Linked DNA regions of Homo sapiens. The protein of the gene in region 1 purifies or fractionates together with the protein of each later gene. This does not show direct contact. Each region holds a gene or a part of one and is shown on either strand. Other genes may lie near its edges. The genes, in order: ARHGEF18, AKAP13, ENAH, EPB41L5 and GART.

The links.
Region 2: the proteins of ARHGEF18 (region 1) and AKAP13 purify together in Homo sapiens (affinity purification with mass spectrometry; one large-scale study listed by BioGRID and IntAct). This does not show direct contact.
Region 3: the proteins of ARHGEF18 (region 1) and ENAH fractionate together in Homo sapiens (co-fractionation; one large-scale study listed by BioGRID). This does not show direct contact.
Region 4: the proteins of ARHGEF18 (region 1) and EPB41L5 purify together in Homo sapiens (co-immunoprecipitation; one large-scale study listed by IntAct). This does not show direct contact.
Region 5: the proteins of ARHGEF18 (region 1) and GART purify together in Homo sapiens (affinity purification with mass spectrometry; one large-scale study listed by BioGRID and IntAct). This does not show direct contact.

Annotation. Positions count from the first base shown.
Region 1 is NC_000019.10:7,376,432-7,380,127, reverse strand, and holds part of ARHGEF18 (rho guanine nucleotide exchange factor 18), read right to left. Parts: intron 3,486-3,696; coding exon 3,371-3,485; intron 1,735-3,370; coding exon 1,677-1,734; intron 1,007-1,676; coding exon 962-1,006; intron 1-961. UniProt on the Homo sapiens protein: Acts as a guanine nucleotide exchange factor (GEF) for RhoA GTPases. Its activation induces formation of actin stress fibers. Also acts as a GEF for RAC1, inducing production of reactive oxygen species (ROS). Does not act as a GEF for CDC42.
Region 2 is NC_000015.10:85,383,478-85,387,173, reverse strand, and holds part of AKAP13 (A-kinase anchor protein 13), read right to left. Parts: intron 3,499-3,696; exon of another isoform or gene 3,439-3,498; intron 3,112-3,438; exon of another isoform or gene 3,064-3,111; intron 2,968-3,063; exon of another isoform or gene 2,777-2,967; intron 1-2,776. UniProt on the Homo sapiens protein: Scaffold protein that plays an important role in assembling signaling complexes downstream of several types of G protein-coupled receptors.
Region 3 is NC_000001.11:225,643,085-225,646,780, reverse strand, and holds part of ENAH (protein enabled homolog), read left to right. Parts: intron 1-3,696. UniProt on the Homo sapiens protein: Ena/VASP proteins are actin-associated proteins involved in a range of processes dependent on cytoskeleton remodeling and cell polarity such as axon guidance and lamellipodial and filopodial dynamics in migrating cells.
Region 4 is NC_000002.12:120,089,431-120,093,126, reverse strand, and holds part of EPB41L5 (band 4.1-like protein 5), read right to left. Parts: intron 2,781-3,696; coding exon 2,611-2,780; intron 1,573-2,610; coding exon 1,466-1,572; intron 1-1,465. UniProt on the Homo sapiens protein: Plays a role in the formation and organization of tight junctions during the establishment of polarity in epithelial cells.
Region 5 is NC_000021.9:33,507,516-33,511,211, forward strand, and holds part of GART (trifunctional purine biosynthetic protein adenosine-3), read right to left. Parts: intron 2,406-3,696; coding exon 2,268-2,405; intron 1-2,267. UniProt on the Homo sapiens protein: Trifunctional enzyme that catalyzes three distinct reactions as part of the 'de novo' inosine monophosphate biosynthetic pathway.

The DNA.
Region 1 (3,696 bases):
TGGCTCATGGCAGCCTTCACTGCCTGGACTCAGCCATCCTCCTGCGTCAACACCCCCACACCCCCCAGAGTAGCTGGGGACTACAGGTATGTGCCACCACGCCCAGCTAATCAAAAAAAAAAAATTATACAGACAGAGTCTCACTCTGTTGCCCAGGCTGGTCTCAAACTCCTGGGCTCAAACAATCCTCCCACCTCAGCCTCCCAAATTGCTGGGATCATAGGCATGAGCCACCTCGCCCAGCAAATTTTTAAATGTTTTTTGTAGAGACAGGGTCTCACTATCTTTCCCAAGCTGGTCTCAAACTCGTGGCCTCCAAATGATCCTCTCACCTTGGCCTCCCAAAGTGTTGGGATTACAGTGGTATGAGCCACCACATCCAGCTACAGGAAGATTTTGTAACAGATGGCAGTGTCTTAGGCAGGAGGCACCTTCACCTGTTTGCTCCAAGGAACCCCTATGCCAGTGGCAGCCTGCTCCTCTCCAACTCTTGTCTTCTATCCTCCTCCCTCCTCTTCTGCCCCATTTTTCTTCCCTTGAACCCAGCCTTGTCTTTTTTCTATTTTTTTGAGACAGAGTTTCACTGTGTTGCCCAGGCTGGAGTACAATGGTGCAGTCTCAGCTCACTGCAACCTCCAACTCCTGGGTTCAATCAATTCTCCTGCCTCAGCCTCCTGAGTAGCTGGGATTACAGGTGCGTGCCACCACGCCTGGCTAATTTTTGTATTTTGAGTAGAGACGAGGTTTCGCCATGTTGGCCAGGCTGGTCTCGAACTCCTGACCTCAGGTGATCTGCCTGCCTCAGCCTCCCAAAGTGCTGGGATTACAGGCGTGAGCCACTGTACCCAGCCCTCACCCAGTCTTCTCTACCCCTGTCTCCTACACCTGTGCACACCCCTGCATGCTTCCTGCTTTTGTCTCCCACTTTGCTCCCCTCAAGCCTGTCCCGATTCCCACTTACCCATGGTACTGTCGAAGTTCTTGAAGCACCTGCTGGACAATCAGCCTGTGGGGGTGGAGGTGGGATTAGAACAGCCCATGGTAGCTCCAGGTTACAGACACTCTCCCCTAGATAAGCTGGGGTTGCCCAAGCAGGCCTCAGGTCCTGATGCAGACCCTACTCAAAGCCACAGTCAGCCGGGCACAGTGGCTCACGCCTGTAATCCCAGTACTTTGGGAGGCCAAGGTGGGCGGATCACCTGAGGTCAGGGGTTCGAGACCAGCCTGGCCAACATGGTGAAACCCCGTCTGTACTAGAAATACAAAAATTAGCCGGGCGTGGTGGCGGGCGCCTGTAGTCCCAGTTACTCTGGAGGCTGAGGCAGGAGAATCACTTGAACCCAGGGGGCAGAGGCTGCAGTGAGCTGAGATCACGCCACTGTACTCCAGCCTGGGTGACAGAGTGAGACCCTATCTCAAAAAAAAAAAAAAAAAAAAAAAAAAGCCACAATTGTCTCCCAAGGCTACATTGAGAACCTTTCTGAGGGGCCTGGGTCCCTCCCACCGGGAGAAGGATGGTGGCAGAAAGATGAGGTTATGGGGGGACTAGTGGGATGGTGTCTGGCCCTGGTCACTTATGGCCAGCAACACTGCACCCTGGCAGCCCTCCTCCCGCAGCCCTGACTTTGTGGCCTGTTCCCTGGGGGTCCCTCCCCCACCACGAGGCAGAAACTCACACGTGATCTGGTTCCACATGGTCTTTTTCCATGCACTCCAGCACTGGAGGTTCCAGGCCTGGAAGAAGCCCCCCATCCCAGGAAGCACAGTTGTCAGGAGCTCTGGGACAGGACCAGCCCAGCAGAGCCCTCCCGGATGCCACCCTGGGCCCCTGCAGAACTGGAGGCCATGCAGACAGGGCCTGTACTCTCAGGCAACAGAGACGAGAAGAGGACAGAGAGCCAGGGACAAACGCAGGTGTCCCCAGTGTCTCGTGAGTGCTTACAACCTACTAAGTGCTTTACGTGTGTGAGATCAGCAGACTCTCCAAGTGGCCTGAAGGAGATACGCTTATTGTCCCCCCTCCCCTTTTTTTCCTTAGACACAGTCTCGCTCTGTCACCCTGGCTGGAGTGCAATGGCTCAATCTCAGCTCACTGCAACCTCCGCCTCCTGGGTTCAAGCAAGTCTCCTGTCTCAGCCTCCCGAGTAGCTGGGATTACAGGCGCACACCACCATGCCCGACTAATTCTTGCGTTTTTATATTTTTAGTAGAGACGGGGTTTCACCATGTTGGCCAGGGTGGTCTCGAACTCTGGACCTCAGGTGATCCACCTGCCTCGGCCTCCCAAAGTGCTAGGATTACAGGCGTGAGCCACCGCACCAGGCCTTTTTTTTTTTTTTTTTGAGACGGTTTCACTCTGTCACCCAGAGCGGAGCGCAGTCCTGCCATCAGAACTCACTGCAGCCTTGACCTCCTGGGTTTAAGTGATCCTCCCATCTCAGCCTCCAAAGTAGCTGGGACTACAGGTGCACACCGTCATGCCTGGCTAATTGTTTTTTGTATTTTTAGTAGAGACAAGGTTTCGCCATGTTGCCCAGGCTGGCCTCAAACTCCTGGGCTCAAGTTATTCACCTGCCTCAGCCTCCCAAGGTGCTGGGATTCCAGGTGTGAGCTGCTGCACCTGTTCTAATAGAGGAAGCCACAGAGGCTCAGAGACTTGTTATGTGTTTAGACTCCAGGTTTGTCTGATGCCAGAGAGGTGCAAGATCTCAGGATAAAAATTCAGAGATAAAGAAAGAGATAAAGAAATAGTCAGAATGCTGGGCGCGGTGGTTCATGCCTGTAATCTCAGAACTTTGGGAGGTTGAGGCGGGCCGATCACTAGAGGCCAGGACTTTGAGACCAGCCTGGCCAACATGGCGAAACCCTGTGTCTACTAAAAATACAAAAATTAGCCGGGCATGGTAGCGGGTGCTTGTAGTCCCAGCTACTTGGGAGGCTGAGGCCGGAGAAGGGCATGAACCCGGGAGGCGGAGGTTGCAGTGAACTGAGATTGCACCACTGCACTGCAGCCTGGGCGACAGAGCAAGACTCTATCTCAAAAAAAAAAAAGAGTCATAGAGAGAAGAGAGAATCTTGGGGACAAGCTCATTGCAATGGGGCAATCTCACACTGGCTCAAGAGCTGCAGGGAGAGGAGGAGGGACAGATGCTGGAGGTCCCTTCCCCTCTCTGGCTTCCCCCAGCGTTCTGCTCAGTCCCTGCCCAGGGGACCCTAAGCCAGCTCCCTTCCCTTCCCTGGGGCCCATCTGGAGCCCCACCAAGGGGACCCTCCAGGATGAAGGATGAAACCCCAACAGGGTTTCACCATGTTGGCCAGGCTCCTCTTTCCCTGACTTGGTTTGAATGAAGGAAACTCCCAGGCTGGCTACCTTGAACAGGTGGAGTGGGCACTTCCAAACCCGGAGAGATTTCCGGAGAGCGGATCTCATAGAAGGACACAGGAACGGACCTTGACCTCCCTCTTTTCTTGGGGCTGTCACATTCCTGCAGGGGATTAAACATCTCACTAAGCTGGGAAGGCAGCCTGGACTGCAGGCAGGTTCCCTGGATTGAGGGGCCCAACCCACAGCCAGGGCCACCTCCACAGAAATGGGGTGACACACTCATCCAAGCCTCAGCCTCCAGCCACTCCCCCCAGCCATAAGACATGGGTTCAGCCACCCCCTCCCCAGCCACAGGGCTGTAGTCCTGGCGG
Region 2 (3,696 bases), on another chromosome or scaffold:
TAGTAGAGACGGGGTTTTGCCATGTCAGCCAGGCTGGTCTCGAACTCCTGATCTCAGGTGATCCACCCGCCTCAGCCTCCAAAGTGCTAGGATTACAGGCGTGAGCCACCACACCCGGCTGAGACCTCATCTTAAAAAAGAAAAAAAAGAAAAAGAAAAACCCAGCAGGACTTGTGGATAACAGCAAGATGAATCTAAAATATGCACAAAAGGCAATGCAACTAAAATACCCAAAAAACAATTCTGAAAAATAATAAGATAACTCACACTACCTGATTTTAAAACTTACTCTAAGGTGACAGTAATCAACAGTGAGGTGATAGAGAAATGAAAGACACAGATCAATGGAATAGGAGAGAGAATCCAGAAACAAAACCACACATTTATGATCAACTTGCAAAAAAAAAAAGGCACAAAGGTAATCAACAGAGAAAGGACAGTCTTTTCAAAAACTGTTGCTGGAAAAATTGTAAATCCATCCACAAAAAAATAAACTCAATGCATACCTTGCACCATTTAGGAAAATTAAATCAAAGCAGATAATAAATGTAAATATAAAATTTTAAATGATAAAACTTCTAGGCGAGCCGGGCACAATAGCTCACGCCTGTAATCCCAGCACTTTGGGAGGCTGCGGTGGGTGGCTCACTTGAGGTCAGGAGTTCAGACCACCCTGGTCAACATGGTGAAACCCCATCACTAGTAAAAATACAAAAATTAGGCATGGTGGTGGGTGCCTGTAATCCCAGCTACTCAGGAGGCTGAGGCAGGAGAATCACTTGAACCCGGGAGGCGGAGATTCCAGTGAACAAGATCTCACTCACGCCAGCCTGGATGACAGAGTGAGACTCCATCTCTAAAAAAAAAAATAATAACTTGTAGGAGGAAATATAGGGGAAAGTCTTTGAGCTCTTAAGTTAGGCAAAGATTTCTAAACTATTATACCAAAAGCATGATCCACTCAGGGAAAAAACAAAAAAACAAAAAAACACTGGATATCATAAAAATTAAGAACTTCTGCTCTTCAAAAGACATTATTAAGACAAGAAGGCCAGACACAGTGGCTCGCGCCTGTAATCCCAGCACTTTGGGAGGCCGAGGCAGGCAGATCACTTGAGGTTAGGAGTTCAAGATCAGCCTGGCCAACATGGAAAAGCCCCATCTCTACTAAAATACAAAAATTAGCTGGGTGTGGTGGTGTGTGCCTGTAATCCCAGCTACTCGGGAGGTTAAGGCAGGAGAATCACTTGAACCCAGGAGGCAGACGTTGCAGTGAGCCAAGATCTCACCACTGTACTCCAGCCTAGGTGACAGAGCCAAACTCCATCTCGAAACAAACAAACAAAAAAAGACATTATTAAGACAAGTAAAAACAGACTAGGAGAAAATATCTGCAAATCATGTATTTGATTCCAAAGTATATACAAAAACTCATTTTTTAAGCAAAAGATTTTGAATTGACATCAAAGAATGACAAATAATCAGATGAAAAGATACTTAATATCATTAGTCATTGGGCAAATGAATAAAAAGGCTACATTCCGTGTGATTCCATTTTTACAACATTCTTGAAAAGGCAAAAAACCATGGAGACAGAAAACAGATCAGCAATTTCCAGAGTCTGGGGGTAGAGAACCGGTTGAGTACAAAAGGGCTCAGAAGAATTCTGGAGGATGAAGGGACTGTCCTGTTTGCAGCAGTGGATATATGAATGTATACACCTGTCAAAACTCAGAGAATGTTACACTAAAATGGCGGAATTTTAGTGAATGTAAACTATACATATGAATAATTAAAGAATGAAAAAATAGAGACTAAAGAGACATAATGATGTGCTGAGTGAACTTTAATTTTACTCTGTCCAAAATTTTTCTTAATCAACTATAAAAGATATTTGGGAGACAAATAGAGAAAGTTGAATAGGTATTGAATAATATTATAGAATTAACGTTAATCTTTCTTGTTGTGAATAACTGCAGTTGGTTATGTAGAAAAAGGGTCAGCAAACTTCTGTAAAAGCCCAGATAGTAAATATTTTCTGCTTTGCAGATCACATGGTCTCTGTTGTAACTACTCAACTCTGCTACTATAGCACCAAAGTAGCCAGAGAAGAGCTTACAGAGTGACATAAATGGTCAAAAACCTCACACGTTTTCCTTCTCTCCCATACTAGCACCCATATCATACAAACACACTGATATCCACATTCCCCAGGCACTGAACACAGCATTGCCCCACACAAATGTTCATACAATCACGGTATTTCAGTACCAGGTCCATCCTTACAGCAAGGTCTGACAAAAACACATTATCCATTCATCTTCTATTCATAACGTCACAATCAACTTGTAGGTGGACGAGAAAACTATAAATATGAGGACAAACGCAGGAAACAAACTTTCTTCCACTGACCAGTGAGGACAGATGCATGAAACAAACCTTTTTTTTTTTTTTTTTCAGACGGAGTCTCGCTCTGTCGCCCAGACTGGAGCACAGTGGCATGATCTCGGCTCATTGCAACCTCCACCTCCCGGGTTCAAGCGATTCTCCTGCCTCAGCCTCCCAAGTAGCTGGGATTACAGGCACCTGCCACCCTGCCGGGCTAGTTTTTGTATTTTTAGTAGAGATGTGGTTTCACCATGTTGGCCAGGCTGGTCTTGAACTCCTGACCTCAAGTGATCCGCCCGCCTCAGCCTCCCAAAGTGCTGGGATTACAGGCGTGAGCCACTGCGCCAGGCTATGAAACAAACTTTCTTCCACCCACAGCTTTCTCGTCTCTCCCCATTTACAGCAGTAAGACAGCCTAACCTGGGAAAGAGAGAGGGAAGCTACTTCCAAATGGATGCCTGTCCCCATCAGTAATAACCAAGTCTATTCAAGTGCCAGATGTTAACTTTAAAAGAAGGGAACATCAAAAGTCCAACTTTCTTCGCCTAGCTTTGTCAGGAATGTTTTTACCCTCAATCTGTAAGTGTGACCAACTGTAATTTTTAAAGGTTTATCCTCAATCTGTAAGTTTGATCAAATATAATTTTTAAAGGTTTACTATAATCTCTTCATCAGAAAACTAATGGAAAGATGGAATAAAATCTAAAGAAATGTCCTTAACAGGTAAATATTTCTAGAATGTATCTACTCCATCTAGGTAGTGTAAGTATTCTAAACTATGCTAGTATAACTGATTTAAATCACTGCCTTCTTCTGTAAATGGTGTCACCTTTAAAGTGTTATCTTGAAGAGGAAGTGAGTGATTTGCTCATGTCTCTGTACTGAACTAACACTGTTAACACCCAGTCCAGCTCTACCTTAAACAAGTTTGAGAAATACAGACACAATCCACACTTATTTGCCAAGACTAAGGTAAAATAAAGTTGGAACTCATATCCTCTTATGACTGATGTACTGAAAACAATCCATCTCTCACTGTTGCCCAAATAGCATAGTCACAAAGAGCTCTACCCTACCAAGCCACTCTGCAAGTCCCACTCTCAAAGGAAGACTCACAGGTGACTGAGAAGATAAACTCGCTATTGTTTCCATTATCCTTCAGTTCATCTGGCACCTTTGAAGAAATAGACTTCGATAAGACTCACAAGTCTCAAGGCCCCTTCTTTATGAAAGAAATAGCTAAACCTCTACACTCAGAAGCATCAGACTTTTAAGAATGCTTAAGTCATGTAAAAATGTACCAAAATT
Region 3 (3,696 bases), on another chromosome or scaffold:
GTCTCACTGTGTCGCCCAGGCTGGATTGCAGCGGCTCGATCTCAGGTTACTGCAAGCTCTGCCTCCCGGGTTCACACCATTCTCCTGCCTCAGCCTCCTGAGCAGGTGGGACCACAGGCGCCTGCCACCACGCCTGGCTAATTTTTTTGTATTTTTTAGTTGAGATGGGGTTTCACTGTGTTAGCCAGGATGGTCTTGATCTCCTGACCTCGTGGGATTACAGGTGGGAGCCACAGCGCCCGGCCTAGACATTTATTTTAAGGTTCTGGAGGCTGGAAGTCAGAGATCAGGTTGCCAGTATGGATGGGTTTTGGTGAGGGTTCTCTTCCTGGCTTGCAGAAGATATCCTTCTCTCTGTGTCCTCACATGGTAGGGTGGGTATGGGAATCCTGGGGTCGGGGAGATGAGGGGGGATTTCTCTCTCCTCCTCATTTCATAAGGCCATTAATCCTATTGAATTAGGGCCCTGTGCTTATAACTTAATTTAACATTAGTTACCTCCTAAAAGCCCTTTTTCCAAATAGAGTCACATTGAGGGTTAGGGTATTAACATATAAATTTTAGGGGAACACAGTTCAGTCTATAGCAGAAGATAACTACATTTTTTTTTTTTGTCAGTGCATACAACTTTGGAAGAAAATAATTTGTTTAATATTTAGGTGAACTTTAGATAAGTTTTGTTTTAAGTAACCAGAAGTTGTTTACTAAAGAAGATAAATTAGGGGGGTTGATTGATTTATACAAGATATCCGTTAAATTTTCTAGAAATCTCTTTACACTGGGAACCTTCTATTTTACAATGATTAAAGTAAGTTTTATTAACAGGCAACTTTTCCAAAGACTACTTTGGGTATGAGGCAATGTATGTATATCTAAGTGTAGAGATTGAATGGTGTAGGGTAAAGAGGACAGGCTTTGAAGTTAACTCTGGGTTTGACTCTAGTTTGACATTTACTAAATAATTTATTTTTGAGTGGGTTATAAACATTTTTTGGGATCGAATATACTTTGTGAATTATAGAGCTGTTGAGAAAATTAAATAAAATTCTGGCATAACACTTGGCACACAAAATGAGCTTGATAAGAGTAAATCCCCCACTTTTATGAAAGTCTGACATCTCTTAAGTTTATGTTAAGAATGTGAAAAACCATGTAAGATGGTGCAGCTGCTTTAGAAAACAGTTTGGCAGTTCCTCAAAAGTTAAACATAGAGTTATCGTATGACCCAGCAATTCCTTTCCTAGAAATGAAAACATTTGTCCACAGAAAAACTTGTACACAAATGTCTATAGTATCGTTATTCATAACAGCCAAAAAGCAGAAATAACCCAGGTGTGTCTGATTTCATGAATAGATCATCAAAATGTGGTATGTCCATACAACAGAATAATATTTGGCCATCAAAAGGAATGGAATTCTGATACATGCCACAGCGTAGATGGAAGCATTATGCTAAGTGAAATAAGCCAGACACAAAAGGCGATATATGCCATGATTCCATTTATATGAAATGCCCAGAATAGACAGATCTATATAATAACACCAGAAGATCTCATTTGCTTTTTACGTGAGTTGTTTCTGACATTTTTATTACTTTGGATTAATATTTTGAATTGACATCTTCGTGCTATTTAAAGAAGAGAGATTGAAGATAGAACCACTGGACATTTCTCTGTAGGGAAACAAGCACGTGGGAATGCTGAGGTGGAAACCTTGGTAGTGGTGGCTTTGAAAGGCCTGAACAAATTTTGGAGCTGTATCTTCGTGCTAAGGAGACAGCCAGCCATCTCTTTGGTAGGCCTGTTGTAAGTAAGGATGACTAAAGTCACCAGTAAAATGTGATGAAGCAAATCCATCAGAATCTTCAGAAAACTTAAATCTGGGTGGTGATTTTCTGGGGTTTGTTTACAGTAGTCTCAAATACCAAAAGTTTTGTCTTTGGGGAATGAGGTAATCATGATATTTTTAAATAAACTGAGCCCTTTTCCAGTGGTAAAGGCCTTATAGAACATCTGGTCTTGGTAAGAATACATCTGATGATGTGAAATCAAAATGACTACCTTTAACTGTGCCTTAGAGGTCCTCAGTCTTCTGTCCTTTTTGGTATCTGTTACATTTGCAACTTGGCAGCGGGGGAGCTTTATGAAGAACCAAGAACTTAAGTAAAATAAAATGAATAGCTCTTGAGGTCAAATCTCAAGGGAGTCCAAATTGCTCCTTTTACAGTTCAGTGAAGGGATCTTTTTATGCAGTCTTAATAATTATTATATACTGGTTATTTGAATATCTGCTTTGTTCTGCAGTCTTTCTCCTCCTCCCCCAAATTCTCATGTTAGACTGATATTGCAAGCAAAATTGTGACCGTTCAGTTTTTAACAATTTAAGATTTATGTATCTTAAGTTTTCATTTAAAACTTTTACTTACAGTCTACTTAATTGTGGTCTTTGCACAATTTTTTTAGAATTATTTTTAGAAAAATAAATCAATTACTGTTGTCCATATGTCTGGTCAGTATTTTTTTAAATTACTTTTTTCCTTCCATTGTAAAGTAGTACAGATTTTGAACAGATTTTAGAAGGTATGGAAAGTATAAAACATTTATTTATGAAATGTTAAATCCAAGCCATCTAGTATTTTAATATTTTAATGTGTAGATTTCTAAACTTTTTGTAGTGCATTTGCAGCATTGCAGATCATTGTGCGTGTGCATATGATTATATATAAAAGTAAGATTATACTATTTAAAAATGGAATTATACTATATTTGTATTGTGTATTTTGTAGCTTGTCCCTTTCCATATATATAATATCTATACTTTTTACATTTTATTATTTTTATTTTTTAAATAGGGTCTTAAACTGTCACCCAGGCTGGAGTGCAGTGGTGCAATCATAGCTTACTGCAGCCTCGAACTCCTGGGCTCAAGCGATCCTCCCATCTCAGCCTCCTGAGTAGCTGAGACTACAGATGTGCGCCACCACACCCTCTAATTGTTAAGATTTTTGTGCAGAGACAAGGTCTCGCTATGTTGCCCAGGCTGGTCTTGAACTCCTGGCCTCAAGTCATCCTCCCACTTCAGCCTCCCAAAGCACTCGGATTACAGGCATGAGCTGCTGTGTCCAGCCAGTAATTCTTGTTCCTAACTATATAGCTACATAACTTTAAGTGACTGCATAATATTCCATTGCTTTGGATGGATGACTTTGTCTACTTAAATCTTAAAGATGGACTTTTAGATTTGTTCCATTATTTTTGTTATTATAAAAAACACTGCTGTGAACATCTTTGGTTATATGTCTTTGTGTACATATCTGATACTGTTTTAGGATACATTCCTAGAAGTAAAATCAAGAAGTAGTGCTGTGTTTTGTTTTTTTTTTTATTTTTTGTTTCTTTACCTTTCTGTATCCAGTCTATCATTGTCCTACCAGGTCACCTTCACTTGCTTCTGTCCATCTCACTGCCTCAAGTCCAGGCCACTGTTATCTCTTACCTGAACTATTAGTGTTTCCTCATTTCCATTCATGTCCCCTGTTCTTCATGCATCACTCAGAATACTCTTAAAGTGGAAATCAGATATTGTTATTTCCCATGTAAAGCCTTCAGCGGCATCTTAGACTAAAACCCAAATTTGTCATAAAACCAAAATTATTAAGGTCTTGCGTGACCTGGCTCTGCATTCCAAGTTCCCAGC
Region 4 (3,696 bases), on another chromosome or scaffold:
TCTTTGAGAAAGGGTCTTTCATGATTTTGTAGAGATAGGGGTGGGTCTCACTACTGTTGCCCAGGCTGGTCTCAAACTCCTAAGAGTTGAGCTTTTGGGCTCAAGCAATCCTCCCACCTTGGCCTCCCAAAGTGCTGGGATTAAAGGTGTGAGCCACCACATTTGGCCCCAACCATAAATCTAAAAACCTTCAATTCACCAAAGTGTTTTGGGATTCACACCATAGAGGCAACAATGGCAATTATTTTCATTTTTCAAATAAAGCAATACAATGCATATATATCTCCTCCTTTTAAACAGAACCAATCTGTAAGCCTCCAGAGTGAGCTGACTGATTATGAATTATCATCAGTGGAAACCAAGAGGAAACTTAGGGTTTTAAAATCATCACAATTCATTTATAGCTGTATATTTAATTTACAGCCACACCAAAACTTATGAGTATAAATCATTTTTATAAAAAAGTCAATACTGCCAAACATCAGATCATTACAGCTGTTTTTGGACAACTGGTGATGACTCTGACAGTGGAAATACTTAAAATTAAATTTGCATTTTAATGCAAATTCATTTTAATGCAAATTCAGTTTAAAACCAAACACAAGGTTTAATTTATTTGTCAAGGTAAATAGTGCTTTTTCTTATATAACTGATCTTAATCAGCAAGTAACAATTATGAATTAGGAAATGTCTATGTATAACAATGATGAATATATTTTAAAATGGTATTTAATACAATCCTTAATATTATAATACAATATGAAATAAATTTTACTTAAAAAAAATTCATCACAAGACAATGTTTTGGCCAGGCATGCCTGTAATCCTTTTAGGATTCGGGAGGCCAAGGTGGGTGGATCACTTGAGGTCAGGAGTTCAAGACCAGCCCAGCCAACATGGCAAAACCCCATCTCTACTAAAAATACAAAAATGAGTCAGGAGTGGTGGCGCATGCCTGTAATCCCAGCTACTCAGGTGGCTGAGACATGAGAATCACTTGAATCTGGGAGGTGGAGGTTGCAGTGAGCTGAGATCATGCCACTGCACTCCAACCTGAGCAACAGAGTGAGACTATCTCAAAATAAATAAATAAATAAATAAATAAATAAATAAATAAAAATGTTTTTAAAAATTCCTAAGGGGATTAAGGGATGTTTTAGAATGAGATCTGTAAGTCAAAAAGGGAGAGAATATGTTGCTCTACAGAAACAGTTTTGTATACAAAAACTGAACATAACCTCAGACTATCATTTGAATTGGGATTAACATAAAGTTTAATCTCTGCTAACAATACAGGCAATTTTTCTCTGTGTATCCCATGAAATTGATTCTGCCAGAAAAGTACTTTAGTTGACTGGAACAGACCTGAGGAGGAGATTCAGGTAACTTCCTCTTATGGAAACAACACCAGCACATAATTAATTGCCAAGGAAAAATAATCCTTTGAAAGAGGGTTGCACTTCACCTTTCATTTGTAGAGTTCGTCTAGAATATCGTTTGCTGGGCCTTCTTTCAAAGGATGTTGATCTTCTTGCTTTATTGGTTTTTGTGGTCTGATACTCTGTTTTCCCACTAAATGAGGCATAACAGAAGTAAGGGAAATTTTAGGTCTACAGTAATAAACACACACAAATAAGACAGTCCACATTCAGGTTCTCCTTAAAAGAATCATCCTAAACTTCATCGCACAGGAACAGCTACTAATAGTCTCGATCTCTCTCTTTACCATATCATTCTTTCGGCTTTTGTGAAATATGCAACAGATTATGTTGGTTTTATTTTTCTCATATGCATGCATATCACCTAAGTACACATTAAATAAGTTTGAAATATCTGTCCTTTTATGGAAACTCCCTCTCTTTCCCATCTACATTCCTCAGTGCAAAGTGTGTAATTAAAAGAATATTTTCAGTTACTTTTTCTAATTGTGATATTCACTTTTCAGTATAATTTTCCAGAAATGTTTTTTAAGACTACTGTCTTATTCTCCTTGATTTCCATTTAAATTCTGTTTAGAAAATGCCTCCTTACTTTTAATATAAGTAGACTACAGTACTACTTCTATTAACTCCACACAATCAACTGGCCACATTATTGGTACAATCCATTCCTTCTTTAACTGATTTCCATGGCATGCAGAAAACTCACAACCAATAATCCACTCTGCAGTAAACCAAAACATTTCTAACTCATGACAACAAACAAGGAGTCATGAGAATAATGACCTTCAGGTTTATAAAGGACCACAAATGTTATCCAGACTAATATCCCATTCAGTGCAAGAAACCCTTTTCTATATGGTATCCAGTGGTGGGTGGAGAGTCCATAAAACTCTTGTTAAATAGATAAACTGGGAGTGGGTTAATATATAAAGTAAACATCCAGAGGGATATAAAAGCCATTATACAATTACTGTTTACGCATCTATTCAAGAAATTATAACCAATAACAATACCACTTTTTCTATTTTATTTTGGCCAATGGAAGACTCTGGCAAACCACCTTATTCCTCTATACCTTAGTTACCATATCTGTAAAAAAGAGAAGATTGGCCTAAATTTTTTGGCCTGTATGCAATGAAAGACAGATAAAACAGCAATTAAAATTAACCTATATCTAAATCGTGATCCTAGTCGAATAAATCCTGATCGATGAGAACTCTTTTGGACGGGGCCTCGAAGGCGGAAGAAAGCATGATGCTCCACAGCACATTTCCATAAATGTTTGCATGCTTTTGGATGATCCAGTCTAAAGACAAATGTATGTTCCTGTTCTTTGCCCTGAAAAAGAAAAGTATATATAAAAGGATGATTACTAATTCAAACAGTCCTATCTCCTATTTCTGAGATACAAACACATCCATGAATAAAGGATCTAGTGTGCTCCCTGAAATTCAGACACTCTTTATAGTATCAACATAATAAGGGCAGAGCTGAAATCAAGTTGCTCATTTTATCAGCCAATACAAAATTATTCCTAGGAGTTATTCCCCTCTACTTACATGATCTCATTTGTGAGAGAGACATAAAATGAGATTTTATCTGCCATTATTTGGGATAACTGTATAATTATAATTTGAGGAATCATATCAGATCTGGCAGTATGCATCAACAGCCCTAAAAATGCTCACATTTTTGTCATAGTAATCACACTGCCATGAGTCTAATTATAATAGTTAACATTCATATAGAAATTTTTCTAAGGATTTCACATAAATTATCTCAATGAGTAGATACTATCATTAGCCCCATTTCATAGATAAGGAAACTGAGGCTCAAAGAAATTAAGCCCAAAATCACAAAGCTATTAAGAAAGAAAACCGGAAATGAACTTAAACATTAGTCTTGCTCCAGAATCTACATACACCTCTAACAACTAAGTTATACTGCCTCTCTGGGGAAAATTATTTCCTAAACATCAAAAGTTATATATGAAGATGTATATTTCCTCAGTCTCATTTATAATAGTAAAACTTGGTACAAACCCTAAACGTCCAAAAAAAGAGAAATGGTCAAGTAAATAGAGGCATATGTAAAAAATTATGCAGAGGGATAAATGAATAAATGATGAATGAATGAATGTGCTATTGTTTATTCATATTACACAATAGCATATATATATGTTAGATCTACATAGGTACACGTTTAGATAAAACAGGCAAGCTGCAAATATATATAATTATGCAAGTTTTTAAAA
Region 5 (3,696 bases), on another chromosome or scaffold:
CACATTTTAAAATAACTGGAAGAGGCTGGATGTGGTGGCTCACACCTATAATCCCAGCACTTTGGGAGGCCAAGGCAGGCGGATCATACTGAGGTCAAGAGTTCAAGACCAGCCTGACCAGCCTGGCCAACATGATGAAACCCCATCTCTACTAAAAATACAAAAAATTAGCCAGGCATAGTGGCAGGTGCCTGTAATCCCAGCTACTCAGGAGGCTGAGACAGAAGAATCACTTGAAACTGGGAGGCGGAGTTTGCAGTGAGCCGAGTCTGCGCCACTGCACTCCAGCCTGGGCGACAGAGTGAGACTCTATCTCAAAAACAAAAACAAAAACAAAACAAAAAAAAACTGAAATAAAATAACTGGATTGTTTGTAACACAAAGAATAAATGCTTGAGGTGATGAATACCCCATTTACAGGGATGTGATTATTACAGGTTGTATGGCTGTATCAAAAGATCTCATGTACCCTATAAATATATATACCTACCATGTACCCATACAAATTAAAAATTAAAAAAACTCCCTTCCTCTTGGGATAATGGATTAATAGATTGTGAAAAGCACAGATATTCCTGGATAGCCTCCAGTTCCATCCATATTGCTGCAAACGACGTGGTTTAGGATATGTAATTGCTCCTAGGATATGTAATTGCTCCCACAAATTCTGTATCTTGTGATCTAGCATTGTAGTAGAAACAGTATAACATTATGTTAAAACTGACTGATGAGAAATAAGCTGCTTAATTAAGCAAGAAAAACTGACCCTCTCAAGAACAAACCACTATGCTATGACTCTTACAATAGTTTCTTTAAAAAAAAAAAATTTTAGATTCGGGGGTACACACGCTTGTTTATTACATGGGAATGTTGTATAATGGTGGGGACTGGGCTTCTAGTGTACCTATTACCTACATAGTGAACATTATACCTGATAGAAAAATTTTCAACCCTCACCTCTTCTCCCACACTTCCCTGTTTTGTATCTATTGTTTCCATCTTTTTTTTTTTTTTTTTTTTTGAGATGGAGTCTTGCTCTGTCTCCAGGCTGGAGTACAGTGGTGCAATCTCAGCTCATTGCAACCTCTGTCTCCAGGGTTCAAGCAATTCTCCTGTCTCAGCCTCCAGAGTAGCTGGACTACAGACGTGTGCCACCATGCCCAGCTAATTTTTGTATTTTTAGTGGAGACAGGGTTTCACCATGTTGGCCAGGATGGTCTCGATCTCTTGACCTTGTGATCCGCCCGCCTCAGCCTCCCAAAGTGCTAGGATTACAGGCGTGAGCCACAGCACCCGGCCCTATTGTTTCCATCTTTATGTCCACATGTACCCACTGTTTAGCTCCCACTCATAAGTGAGAACATGCAATATCTGGTTTTCTGTTTCTGAGGCAGTTCACTCAGGATAATGGCCTCCAGTTCCATCCATATTGCTGCAAATGATGTGGTTTTATTCTTTTTTATGGCTGCATCTTACAATAGCTTCTTTGCTTTATTATCAACTTGGGCCTAAAGTACATTAAAACCTTAAGATCGACCTGTAAAGCAATTAAACTTCTGGGAATGAATCCTGAAGAAGTATCAGAGCTGGTTGTGGTGCTGCATGCCTGCAGTCCCAGCTACTCGGGGGGCTAATAAGGCGGAAGGATTGCTTGAGGCCAGAGCTGGAAGCTGCAGTGTACTATGACTGCATCTGTGAATAGCTACTGTACTCTAGCCTGGGCAACATAGCAAGACTGTCTCAAAAAGAATCACTATGATCTTGGCCATCAAATAAAAAAAAATCACATATGCATTTAAGAACATACTGAATATTTGCAAGAATGTTCATAGCAGTGTTACTTACAATAGAGGGAAAAAAATCAGGCTACATCCATCTGAGAGAATACAATACTCTTATTACTTTACCCCTCTATCCATAAAGGTTAAACATAAACTTCTTCTAATTAATAAGATAACAATAAAAATTCCTCAACTGTTTTCAGACTTTTCAACAACAAAGCTATGATACAAAATGAGCTGTAGCTTCTATCTTTTCTGGTTTCTCTTTAACCAGCTTTCTGACATCCTTTACTTTTTTCTTTGGGAGCTGTCTCAAATTCCTAAGAAAAGTGGAAAGACTAAGAATGCTGAAAAGACAAAGACAACCCTCATGATTCCCCCCAGTCCCTAGACTCTGCCGAGAGTAACCTTACAATCTCACAAGAGTGCGGGGAGGAAAGGAAGGGCAGTCAACAGCTCTACAGTGAAGGGGAAGCCACATCTCACCTGTTCCAGATATTAAGACAGCCACTCTGGCCTTTTTTTTTTCAAAAGAGAAATGATTTGTCAGGGAGCCATTCTTCAACACTGACCCATTTATTTGCATGCTTTCAATCAGATTCTTGACTTTCACACGTGGGGAACCTTCATTTCAAACATATCCATAAATAAGTAAAGAACAATTGTGAATTAACAAGAATAATGGAAAGAAAAATATTTTATGAAAACTTTAGGGTATGTTTTATCCTGAAAATAAGATAATGCAAGGACTAAAATGAACAACACATTTGTATCACTTAACACTACTCTTTCATAAAAACTTCCAAAAGGTGAACATATGTAATTACTTCAACTAAAAGCTGCAGATCACATCACTATCTTGAAGTGCACGGTGGATATATATGACTGCCTGCCAGTATTCTGCCCCTACTCCCCAAATCTTCCTAGCGAGACCACCCACAGTAGTGCCATGATCTCCTGGTCTCGGGGATAAGCATGTGACCTAGCAAAGCCATTTAAAGGCTTGATATGCGATGTTAAGAAAAAGAGGGTCTCTCTTTTTTTTCTTTTTGAGATGGAGTCTCGCTCTGTTGCCCAGGCTGGAGTGCAGTGGCGCGATCTCGGCTCACTGCAAGTTCCGCCTCCTAGGTTCACGCCATTCTCCTGCCTCAGCCTCCCGAGTAGCTGGGACTACAGGCGCCCGCCACCACGCCCGGCTAATGTTTTGTATTTATTAGTAGAGACGGGGTTTCACTGAGTTAGCCAGGATGGTCTTGATCTCCTGACCTCGTGATCCACCCGCTTCGGCCTCCCAAAGTGCTGGGATTACAGGCGTGAGCCACCACGCCCGGCTGGGTCTCTCTTTCTTATTGTAATGTGAGCTGAAGGATGTTATCTTTCCGGCATTTGGAGAACCCGCTTGAAAATGAATCCTACACAATAGAGGAAAGAAAGGCAGATACAGGTAAAGTCAACAAGGTCTGACATTTTTTTTTTCTATTTTTTATTTTTGTGAATCTTCTCTGTATCGTTCCAATTTTAGTATGTGTCCTGCCAAAGCAAGCATGTGACGTCTTTGTTAGTGAATCTGAGTGGATTTTCTGCCCCTCTGCCAAGTTCTAGCACTTCTCGCAGAGTCCTGACTGATACAGTACTTGTCAGGGTGCTTGCTCGCTATTCCTTGAATCGAGCTGAGTGACAGCAGAGCCATGAGGTCTTGTGTGTAGGGAGATTACTTTGGGAAGCGATCCTGTGGGGTGTGGCTGTGCATGCATGAATGCTTAGTTCTGAGGCAGAAATGAAGAGATACGTGGTATCGCTGGGGTGGGTGCTGTCATGTTACATCTGTGTAAAGATAGTTGCCATAGCGATGGCTGCACTAAAAGGTGGGCAGAAAGCTTGTGAGGCAAGGCTGAGGTATAGCTAAAATTATACA